3 linked regions of the Homo sapiens genome follow. The gene in region 2 interacts genetically with the main gene of each other region. Each region holds a gene or a part of one and is shown on either strand. Other genes may lie near its edges.

Region 1 (4,259 bases), on a different chromosome or scaffold from region 2:
CCACACCCAGCCTCAACAGGTGTTTTGAACGGCCAGAGTGGCCCTCAAGGAGGATACATGCCTCACTCCCACCGCAGCCACACGGCAAGCCTTCTTTCCCTGAGCCTCTGCCCTCTGCACCCCATCCCCCCATCTTCGCCTTACCACCTTTTATAATCCCTTTCGGTCTCAGTTTCCAAGGCAATTCCTCGAGGACCCTTTCACAATGCCAGCCTTTGCCAGGCTGTGGTGTGCTCACGCCATTCTTTTTCATCACTATTCCTAGCTTGAAATTATTGTGTAATTGCAATTTTTTTTTTTAAGACAGGGTCTCCCTCTGTTGCCCAGGCTGGAGTGCAGTGGCGTGATCATAGCTCAATGCTTCGTTGAACTCCTGGGCTCAAGCAATCCTCCTGCCTCAGCCTCCCAAATAGCTGGAACCATAGGCATGCGCCACAATGCCTGCCTAATTTTTATATTTCTTTGTAGAGATGAGGCCTCGCTATATTCCCCAGGCTGGTCTGGAACTCCTGGCTTCAAGTGATGCTCCAGCCTCAGCCTCCCAAAGCCGACTAGCCACCTTGCCAGCCTGTTTGTGATTATTTGATTGAAGTGTGTCACCCCTACTTCACCATGAGCTCAGGGCTCAAGGGGGACGGGGCTGGTGCCTGTTTTGTCCTGGACACCTGGGAACATCATAGGCACTTAGGAAATGTCTGTGGGATGATTGGTGCTGCTCCACAAGCTCGCCACCACCCATGAGGTGCAGGCATCGCAGAAAGGGCCTGGCAGGGGACAGACCATAGTGTCTTAAGCTCCCATAACCAGCCTAAGGAGGGAGGGAAGAAGGGAGGAGTGGCTGTGGCTCCAGATAATAAAAGCTGGGGCCAGGCCCTGGGGGGCATAACTGGCCTGAGATAACCTGAAAGACCTGAGGCGGAGGAGAGTCGTCACATTCCAGGGAGACTGCACACACACACAAACCACATGCACGTGCATGCACGCACACTCAGACACACACACTACACACACAGGGACACACACAGCCTACACATGTGCACATACAGCCTGTACATGCACACACACACACATACCACACCACATAAGAGGACACACACAGCCTACACAGGCATACACACACACCACATACACACTACACACCGGGACACACACACAAAAGGCCTATGCATGTGCACACACATACACACGGACACATACATGCACACACACGGGCCTGCAGCTCTGAAAGGACTCATGACTTTGGTGGCAAGAGGAGCTGGCGGAGCCCAGCCAGTGGGCGGGGCCAGGGGAGGGGCGGGCAGGTAGGTGCAGCCACTCCTGGGAGGACCCTGCGTGGCCAGACGGTGCTGGTGACTCGTCCACACTGCTCGCTTCGGATACTCCAGGCGTCTCCCGTTGCGGCCGCTCCCTGCCTTAGAGGCCAGCCTTGGACACTTGCTGCCCCTTTCCAGCCCGGATTCTGGGATCCTTCCCTCTGAGCCAACATCTGGGTCCTGCCTTCGACACCACCCCAAGGCTTCCTACCTTGCGTGCCTGGAGTCTGCCCCAGGGGCCCTTGTCCTGGGCCATGGCCCAGAAGGGGGTCCTGGGGCCTGGGCAGCTGGGGGCTGTGGCCATTCTGCTCTATCTTGGATTACTCCGGTCGGGGACAGGTAAGTGAGGACGTGGGGGCAGGGTGGGGACAATGCACTGGAGGGAGCCGGCGTGATCATTTTCTGGGGTGTGCCCTTGTCTGGGGCCCAAGAAAACCCCCGGCCTCCCTAGCTCTTGGCCTCTCTTTCCCACCTTGGCTCTGTCAGGGAAGGGGCCAGCCCTCTGGAGCAGTGGTGGGTACTAAGGGGTCAGGGAACCCGAGTCTTCCCTACTCACCCCTCCTCTTTCTCTTTCTTTCTAGGAGCGGAAGGGGCAGAAGGTGAGACTTTCCTCGGAGAGGGAGGAGGGGAGGGGGAGGTGACTTGGATCGGATTCCCCTGGGGTTTAACCAGTGCCTGGCCTTCAGCTGGGCTGCCTTCCAACTAGATTCTCTTAGGGCTCCCAGAGTGGGGGGTTTTAGCCCTCACCTTATGGGCAGAGAAGCAGGGACTTGCCCAGGGCACACTGCCAGTGAAGGTGCAGCTGGGATTCAGATCCACGTCTGACTCCCAAAGTGGGGCAATCGAGGTGGTTTTTTTGGTTTGGTTTTTGTCTTTTGAAACAGGGTCTGGGTCTGTCGTCACCCAGGCTGGAGTGCAGTGGCCCGATCGCAGCTCACTGCAGTCTCAGTGATCCAGCCTCCCGGGCTCACGTGATCCTCCCACCTCCCCACCTCAGCCTCCCTAGTGGCTGGGACTACAGGTGCATGCCATCACACCCAGCTAGTTGTGTTTTGTTTTTGTTTTTGTTTTTGTTTGGTAGAGATGTGGGTCTCACTATGTTGGCCGGGCAGGTCTTGAACTCCTGGGCTCAAGCGATCCTCCTGCCTTGGCCTCTCAAAGTGCTGGGATTACAGGTGTGAGCCACCGTTCCCATCCTGGAGGTGGTTTTGAGGGAACCAAACCAAGGGTCTCCTTTCTTGGAAGGCACCCAACCCAGCTCTGAGTCAGACCGGCTTTCAATCCTGGCTTCCCCATGCACTGGCTGTGTGTCATTGGCCAAGTCCCCCCACTTCTCTAAGCCTTAGACTCCTCACCTCTAAAATGAAGCTGGTCATGTCCGTCTCCTGGGGCTGTGGAGAGGATGCAGGGAGATGAGGAAGCGAAAGCCCCTCCAGGGCCTGGCACAGCCGCTAGGCTCTCTAAATAGTGGCTATTGTCATGATGATAAGGGAGAGAAAGATCTGGTCTGCAATTTTCTCTGCTCCTAGATGACTTTGTGAAGAGCAGTTGGGCTCCACTCCAAAGTGGCCTCAATGGGGGTGGGGCTGGGGCTGTCCTGGAAACTAGACATTCACATCACAGGAGCCCAGTTCTGCTGTTGGTTTGTTGAATATATGTCCACGACGCCACAGGCACTGCAGACATGAGAATCTGCCCCTAGGGAATGCCCAGATTGGTGTGGTGGAAACAGACACAGTTGTGGACTCCGGAACAATTGTGAGACTGGGCAGCATCGGGGAGCATGGTGGAGGTTGGGGGGTGCTGGGCTCGGAGGCAATGCCCAACTCAGCCAGCAGAAGCCCGCCTGTCTACGGAGGGGCTGCTGTTCCAATCAAGCATCCACAGGCAAAGGGAAGTTTGCCAGACAGTAAGGATGGGGAAGGGCATACCAGGTAGAGTGACCTGGATCAGCCAAGGTCCCGGGTAAACAAGTGTGTGGCCTGATGTACACAACTGAAGGGTCCAGAGGGGACGGCTGGGTCCGATGGCGGTGCCATGGTCTGTCTGGAATGTATCTTAAGGACCGCGTGGAGCCAAGAAGGGTTTAAGCAGGGCTGTGGCCTGGTCAGATTGGGGGTTTATGAAAATCTTCAGACTTGTAAGGGGCGGGATGGATGGAAGGCTTGCAAGGAGAGAAGCTGCCATGAGACCTGAATTAGGTAATGGGTAGTGGACAGAAGGGGCACAACTGCCCATGCCTGGGAGGGGACAAAGGGGTGTTGACTCCTGTGAACCCACTTCCCAAGCTCTATATCAGAGCTCCTGGGCTGCATAGGAGTGGCCAGGCTAACAACCTGACCCCTTCCCTTCCTCCCTGGGCAGCTCCCTGCGGTGTGGCCCCCCAAGCACGCATCACAGGTGGCAGCAGTGCAGTCGCCGGTCAGTGGCCCTGGCAGGTCAGCATCACCTATGAAGGCGTCCATGTGTGTGGTGGCTCTCTCGTGTCTGAGCAGTGGGTGCTGTCAGCTGCTCACTGCTTCCCCAGGTACCAAATGGTGAAAGTCAAAAGTGGGCTGGAGGTCAAAGTTAATGGGTCAATCCAGGTCAGAGGTTGGGGTTCTTGGGTTGGGTCTGAGAGTGTCAGTTCTAAGTCTGGAAGGACCAGTTAGGAGTGAAGGTGAGGGGTCAGAGGTTACATGATAAAACTAAGGTGCAATTTGAGACCTAAAAGGGGCTGATCGGAATCAGGGGTTGGCAGTGGGGGTTGGGGAACAAGGAGAGGTCTCCTGGGTCTCAGCCTTTGCCCCCTGCCTGCAGCGAGCACCACAAGGAAGCCTATGAGGTCAAGCTGGGGGCCCACCAGCTAGACTCCTACTCCGAGGACGCCAAGGTCAGCACCCTGAAGGACATCATCCCCCACCCCAGCTACCTCCAGGAGGGCTCCCAGGGCGACATTGCACTCCT
Region 2 (3,647 bases):
TCTTAAATATAGAAAGTTTTTGTTTACTTAAATCTATTTGGAAGTTTATATTTGAGCTAATAATTAAGCTGGAGCATGTATAATAGATTTAAATTGTTTTGACTGTTAGTGAAATTTCTAGATGAAGGCAATAAAAATTTTTTCACTCATCTTTTTCTGGCATTTTGTCTTCTATACCTGTACTGTCCAGTGTGGTAACCACTAGCCACATGTGGCTATTTGAACTCAATTACAAAATATTCAGAATTTACTTAGTCATACTAGATATATTTCAAGTGCTGAATAATCACATGTGGCTAGTGGCTACCATATTGGACAGCACATAGAAAACATTCTATCACTGGAGAAAGTTTTAGACAGTGCTGAGCCAGACATTTGTTGAAATATTACTGTGGCCCTTTTTTATTTTCAGATTGGAGTTTTAATTATCTGTGAAGGAGTTAAGAGTTCTTGCTTGGGTCAAGTGTTTGCAAAGAAGATTCTTTAAATTCTGTAGCTCTCAAATTTTGAGTTATCTGCACATTAGTTTACAATCCATGTAGTTATATGCATTATCATATATAGAAATTAGGAATGTGGGCACTGGAGTCAAACTGTTTGCTTACCCTATTTCTACCTCTTATTAGTTGTGTGAATTAGGGCAAATTACTTAATCTCTGAGGCTCTGATTTTTGCCCCATAAAGAGGGGATTAAACTATTGTTTATCTTATTTAAAGTTCACGGCTGGGCTTGTTGGATCCTGTTTGTAATCCCAGCACTTTGAGAGGCTGAGGAAGGAGGATCACTTGAACTCAAAAGTTGGAGACCAGTTTAGGCAGCATAGTGAGACTTTGTCTGTAATTTATAAAAAATAAAATTTAAAAAAAATTTGAGGATTGAGATGCTTCATGTAAAGGGCTTAAAATATTTTCTGAGATAATGAGCACTGAATATTTGCTTATTGTAACCAGCATGTTTTGTGTAACACAGGATACTATATAAAAAAAACATTAATTACAGTGATGGAGACATGGGGGTGGACAAGAAACAGGAAAGTTTTGGCAATTAGGAAGATTAAGAAAAAATGTTAGATAGAAAACTAAATAGTGGTATTTGTATTTGATCTGAAACTTGGACTTTTCTTTTTCTTTTTTTTTTTTTGAGACAGAGTCTTGCTCTGTCGCCCAGGCTGGAGTGCAGTGGTGTGATCCCGGCTCACTGCAACCTCCACCTCCCAGGCTCAAGTGTTTCTCCTACCTCAGCCTCCGGAGTAGCTGGGATTACAGGCGCTAGCCACCACTCCCAGCTAATTTTTGTATTTTTTTTGTAGAGATGGGGTTTCGCCACATTGGCCAGGCTGGTCTCGAACTCCTGGCCTCAAGTGATCCACCTGCCTCGAGCTCCCAAAGTGCTGAGATTATAGGCATGAGCCACCACGCCAGGCCTGACACTTGGAATTTTCTGACCTTGCTAGTTATACTTTAGTTTATCAGCTTTCATACATACTGTTTGGATAAGCAAGAACATCATAGAGAATAAAATAAGGAACAGTTATGGAAAGCAGCATTATTACTTGAACAAGTATTGGTCTAGGAGTTATACAACCTGAGTTGATGCTATCTCTGCATTAATTAAAACTCATATGATTGCCTCAACTCTAAGGATTGAACTGATATTGAAGTTTCATTTTAATTAATTACAAAGTGCATCGTAAAGTTTCAAACAGTAAAGTTTTACTAGAATCACCAGAGTTGAGGTTTAATTAAAAGACTTTTGAATCTGAGCTTTGATTCAAATCTCTATAGGTATGTTGACTACTGACTATAGTTAAGTAAATAGAAGAGTCATATTGTCCACCCACAATTTTTTTTTTCTTTTCTTTTCTTTTGAGACAGGGCCTCACTCTGTCACCCAGGCTGGAGTACAGTTGTGTAGTCTCAGCTCACTGCAGCCTCTGCCTCCACCTCCTGGGCTCAAACGATTCTCCCACCTCAGCATCCTGAAAGGCGTGCATGCCACCACACTCAGCTAATTTTAAAATTTTTTGTAGAGATGAGGTCTCACCATATTGCCTCAGCTGGTCTTGAACTCATGGGCTCAAGCAGTCCTCCCACCTTGGCCTCCCAAAGTGTTGGGATTACAGGTGTGAGCTGCCACACCCGGCCTCACATTTTCTTATTCATAGTTGGAATGGAATGGTTAGTAGGTAGAAATACCTAGAGGAAACAAAGGAACCAAACTATTCATAAAATAGGAGATAAGACTCGAGAGTAAATCTTCTAGTTGGATATGCAGACAGATCATGTGCTGGTATATTCTGACTACTTACCTGTTCCAATATTTTATATATTTTTCTGCCATATCTAAAGCGAGGAGGAGTAATAAGTCCAATTTGATACTACAGGTGAAAAAAAATTAAACCTTGTGGCCGGGTGCGGTGGCTTACGCCTGTAATCCCAGCACTTTGGGAGGCCGAGCAGGCAGATCACCTGAGGTTGGGAGTTCGAGACCACCTTGACCAACATGGAGAAATCCTGTCTCTACCAAAAATACAAAATGAGCTGGGTGTGGTGGCCTGTAATCCCAGCTGCTCGCGAGGCTGAGGCAGGAGAATTGCTTGAACCCAGGAGGCAGACGGAGGTTGCAGTGAGCCGGAGATTGCGCGATTGCACTCCAGCCTGGGAAACAAGTGAAACTCCGTCTCAAAAAAAAAAAAAAAATTAAACCTTGCGAAATCAAATTTAAGGAATCTTTTACAATGCATACTCATCTTAAATAATTGCAAAGCATATTTCTTTAATTATTCGGAGTTGTTAATTCTGCTATACAGGTTTTGTGTGCTTCTGAAAAGTGTGGTTATCAAGTTATCTAGTTTTTACAACTGCCTTGGAGTTTATCAGGAGAGAGACCTTCTTTTTTGCCTTCATTTTCTTTCTTACCGCTGCTATACTATGCTCTACTGTCATTAACACTCAATTCCCACTCCCTTCCCCAGAAGCTTTTGTCATAAGACATTACAAAGAAGGGAGATTGTGCCTAGTTAAAAGACTGAGGAGGTGAACTTTAGAGGTAGAGGGATTTTCTTGCAAAAAAAACTAAAGTTTCTATAACTATGAATATTAATATAGAGTAATTTTTTTTCTTTTTTTTGAGCCAGAGTCTTGCTCTGTCGCCCAGGCTGCAGTGCAGCGGTATGACCTCGGCTCACTGCATCCTCCGCCTACCGAGTTCAAGCAATTTTCCTGCCTCAGCCTCCCGAGTAGCTGGGACTACAGGCATGCACCACTGCATCCAGCTAATTTTTGTATTTTTAGCAGAGACGGTGTTTCGTCATGTTGGCCAGGCTGGTCTCGAACTCCTGACCTCAGGTGATCTGCCCGCCTTGGCCTCCCAAAGCACTGGGGATTACAGGCATGAGCCACCGTGCCTGGCCCCTAATATAATTAGATTAGAAATATACTTTGTTTCTAAAGTTGATATTCATTGTAAGTAGCTTTTTAAAGTAAATTTTGGTTTTTTAGTGGCTAGAATTCTATAATGTATTTTTGCTTCAAAATTTCCTTTTTCTTTTGTGAAAGTTTATTAAACGGAATAGAATTAAGAAAGAATTCATTTGGCATTTGCAGGTTACAGTTAGCTTTCTACTGAAAAAAAAAATTTTTAACTA
Region 3 (3,647 bases), on a different chromosome or scaffold from region 2:
GGCGGATCACATGAGGCCAAAAGTTTGAGACCAGCCTGGCCAACATGGTGAAACCCCGTCTCCACAAAAAATACAAAAATTAGCTGGGCATAGTGGCACACACCTGTAATCCCAGCTGCTCGGGAGGCTGAGGCAGGAGAATCACTTGAACCCGGGAGGTGGAGGTTGCAGTGAGCCAAGATCACACCACTGCACTCCAGCCTTGGTGACAGAGTGAGTGACAGTCCATCTCAGAAAAAAAAAAAAAAGAAGAAGAAGTGATGGGGTCAGGGGTTGGAGGACGTCATGCAGAGTGGTCCATTGATGGGACAGAGCCAGGGCAGCTCCTAGCCCATCTACTTACCACCTCAAGGAAAGATGGTCACCTTTTCCAGAAAGGCTGTTTCCTCACCCCTCAGACAGGCAGGCCTACTGAAACTGGCCAAAGATGGACTTATAAAATATAATTTCTTGGGTGCAGGATGGATGGCTTAGAGGGGAAAAGGCTCCCTGGGCTTGGATGTCCTCCTCTCATGGTGGGAAGGAACATTCCTCTTTCTGCAGGATGGAAAGAGAAGTTTTTCCTCCATCCTCACACACTGGCTTCCGCTGTCCAAAGGAGTGTGACTGCCCCCTCCACCCCTGCCTGGGGTGGGGCTGAGACAGATGCTTTGCCAAGGGTGGCTCGGCTCCTATCCTCCCAGCTGGCTCTATTGCAGCCTGCCAGTCTATCCTTCACTCTCATAAGGATCCCTCTCACCTATGGGGCCCTGGTACTAGTGGTCAGTAGCCCCAGTTACCATGGAGTCTGAATCATCTCTAATCCCTAAGGTTCTCCAGATAGACAGTGGGCTGAGTGGTTTCCTCCCAGGGAGGCTTTCCAGAAAGCTGTGGGTGTGGAAGAACCGTAAAAAAGAATCTCTTAAGGAGAAAGAGAAAACCCATGAACCTATGAGATGAGAGGGATTCAGGAGCTCTGGCTGGGAAAGTAAAATTGAATAATAAGACCTAGCCTGCCACTCAGTGTCTGAATTTTGCCTGTGCAGGCCCCATAACAACAAAGAAAATAGGGCAGCATGCCCACTCTCATCCTCCACCGGCAAATTCCAGCTAGAAGGTATTGGTTAAAGACCCTTCCAGATGCAAGGGTCAAGAAAGGAAGGATAAAGACAGACAGGCAGAGCCCAGGAGCCCTGAAGCAGGCCTGGCAGCTGCTTTACAAACAGAACAGCTTCTCTGCTTTCAAATGCTCTTCTTAAAGTTTGGCCTTCTAGGCTACCCTGGTTGCACTGGGATAGGGGTGGGGGTTGTGAACTCCTTGGTATTTATTTTCTGTTGCCTCGATTATTCTGACATGTACTGAGTGACTGCCCTTCTCTCATACTGAGATCTTTCAGGTGGAGTGCTCAATGACTGGTCTCGCATCACTATGAACCCCAAGGTGTTTAAGCTACATCCCCGCAGCGGGGAGCTGGAGGTACTGGTGGACGGCACCTACTTCATCTATAGTCAGGTAGAAGTGAGTACGGTCTTAGGCCTAACTCTTCTTATATCCAGAATGCAGATCCGGTGCAGGCCACATAGGGGCACTGTGGAGCCAGCCAAGACCATCCAATGGCTAACTTCCTGCTTTGGGTGAGGGGGTGGGGGGACCGCACTGGGAGGGAGTTGAAAGGAGGAAAGAGAGAGGGGGCCAGCTTCTTTTGTTTTGTTTTGTTTTGTTTTTCCTTAGCCAAATATTATTGAAAAACTGTGAAAAAGACCCCTCCCACACCCTGCCATCTGATTCCCTCCTGCAGGGCCTCAGGCCCCTGTTTACCCTCTGAGCTGTTTGGCTGCACTGCCAAACTTGAACTTGGTCTCAGTACATTCTTTGAAAGTCAGTTCCAGGGTTACTGAGAACCCTTTCCCTCAACACTGCTGGCTCGGACGTTGTAATGAATAGTGCTCCTGCAGACTTTCTTTCCACCTCAAAAAGATTTCTGACTGTCTTTCCTTCCTCTTTCTCCCATTTGTTTCCCTATCTTTCTATTCCTCTATTCTTGCCTCCTTCCTGCTGTCATTCTCCCAGCCCTTTCTCCCTCTGCTTTTGTCCTCTTCCTGCCCTGGGCCCGCTCCCCAAGTCCACCAGTGTCCATCTACTTCCGTTCCCCCATTGTTTGCCTCCATGGGAGTGGCTCCTTGGAGATAAAGGAAGATGAGCCATGAGGTTGGGATTTTTGTGGGATGGGCAGCAAGCAGGCAGGTGGACAGAAGGACTATGGAGCCAACAGATGGGTGTCACATGAGAGCGGCCAGAGAAGGTGGGCTAACAAGCATCTGCTAGGCACACTGAGCACCCCGCTGTAGCTTGGGTCCTGACCCGTATATGGCACCCAAATATGCTGTTCCCACCTGAAGAGCTGATAGAGGGAGTGACCTTTCATAAAATGATTTACGGTGATATCTGAGAGTCCCAACACCCATGGGGCACATGGGCATAACCCTGATGTCCTGTGAGCCAAGTTCCACGTGGTGGGGGTGGGCGGCAGATCAAAACTTGGTGTGAGGTATGATGGATAAGGGTAGTGAAGGATGGAAAAATTAATTTTCTGAGCCTAGGAGAGAATTGAGAGTGGCCCATGCAGGCTGGGAAAATCCCCATGACATTAGGCCACTGAGCATAAGTTAGTGCTTCCTTCTGGCCACAAAGTTAGGGGCCTGGGCTTTTCCAAATTCTTTGTCTTGTTTGTGGTAGCTAGCTCTCGATCTCTCTGGACCTGTTTCCTCAATCATCAGATGGGAGGCCCAAGGGGCACTGTGAATCAGTGAGGGGAGTCCAGGCCCAGGGGAGGGGTGGTGCAAGCTGAATAAGCTTCTGTTAAGGAGCTCAAGAAATCACAAGTTGTTACATGCCCTCTCTGGGGAATCAGTGACTTCTAAGTTTCTCCACAAATAGTCCGTGGGGCTCAAGAATGGAAGTCAGTTTGTGTCCACGGCACTGTGTACACACCTGCTACGTGCAGAGCACTCTGCTTCATGTCAGGGCTGGGGCAGGGGTGGGCGGGGGAACAGGGGCACGGTGAAGCTGCAAATAGGGCATGGTTCTTAGCCTTACAGAGTTTGCGACAAGTGTGCTGTTGTAAGAAAAGTTTGCTCAGCCAGCTGAGCCCCATGGACTAGGGGAAGAACAATGCCTGTCACCTGTCCTTTCCTGTTGGCCAGCTAGCACGCCTTCACATGGCACTGCCCCATCCATGGGGTATACTAACAGCTCATCTGAGAAGATTCTGTCAATTCACCACAGGGAGGGCCCCCCACCCTCTCTTTCCTCTCTTCCCCAATCCCTTCTTGTTGCCTCTCACTCAGGTATACTACATCAACTTCACTGACTTTGCCAGCTATGAGGTGGTGGTGGATGAGAAGCCCTTCCTGCAGTGCACACGCAGCATCGAGACGGGCAAGACCAACTACAACACTTGCTATACCGCAGGCGTCTGCCTCCTCAAGGCCCGGCAGAAGATCGCCGTCAAGATGGTGCACGCTGACATCTCCATCAACATGAGCAAGCACACCACGTTCTTTGGGGCCATCAGGCTGGGTGAAGCCCCTGCATCCTAGATTCCCCCCATTTTGCCTCTGTCCGTGCCCCTTCCCTGGGTTTGGGAGCCAGGACTCCCAGAACCTCT

The links.
Region 1: changes in CHD1 (region 2) and PRSS8 together harm fitness less than expected from each alone (positive genetic interaction), as found in Homo sapiens cells (one large-scale study listed by BioGRID).
Region 3: changes in CHD1 (region 2) and EDA together harm fitness less than expected from each alone (positive genetic interaction), as found in Homo sapiens cells (one large-scale study listed by BioGRID).

The regions. Positions count from the first base shown.
Region 1 is NC_000016.10:31,132,807-31,137,065, reverse strand, and holds the start of PRSS8 (prostasin preproprotein), read left to right. Parts: upstream 1-1,338; 5' UTR 1,339-1,567; coding exon 1,568-1,652; intron 1,653-1,894; coding exon 1,895-1,912; intron 1,913-3,677; coding exon 3,678-3,840; intron 3,841-4,112; coding exon 4,113-4,259.
Region 2 is NC_000005.10:98,922,472-98,926,118, reverse strand, and holds part of CHD1 (chromodomain-helicase-DNA-binding protein 1), read left to right. Parts: intron 1-3,647. UniProt on the Homo sapiens protein: ATP-dependent chromatin-remodeling factor which functions as substrate recognition component of the transcription regulatory histone acetylation (HAT) complex SAGA. Regulates polymerase II transcription.
Region 3 is NC_000023.11:70,032,031-70,035,677, forward strand, and holds part of EDA (ectodysplasin-A), read left to right. Parts: intron 1-1,367; coding exon 1,368-1,498; intron 1,499-2,050; coding exon of another isoform or gene 2,051-2,170; exon of another isoform or gene 2,171-3,016; intron 3,017-3,327; coding exon 3,328-3,579; 3' UTR 3,580-3,647. UniProt on the Homo sapiens protein: Cytokine which is involved in epithelial-mesenchymal signaling during morphogenesis of ectodermal organs. Functions as a ligand activating the DEATH-domain containing receptors EDAR and EDA2R. May also play a role in cell adhesion.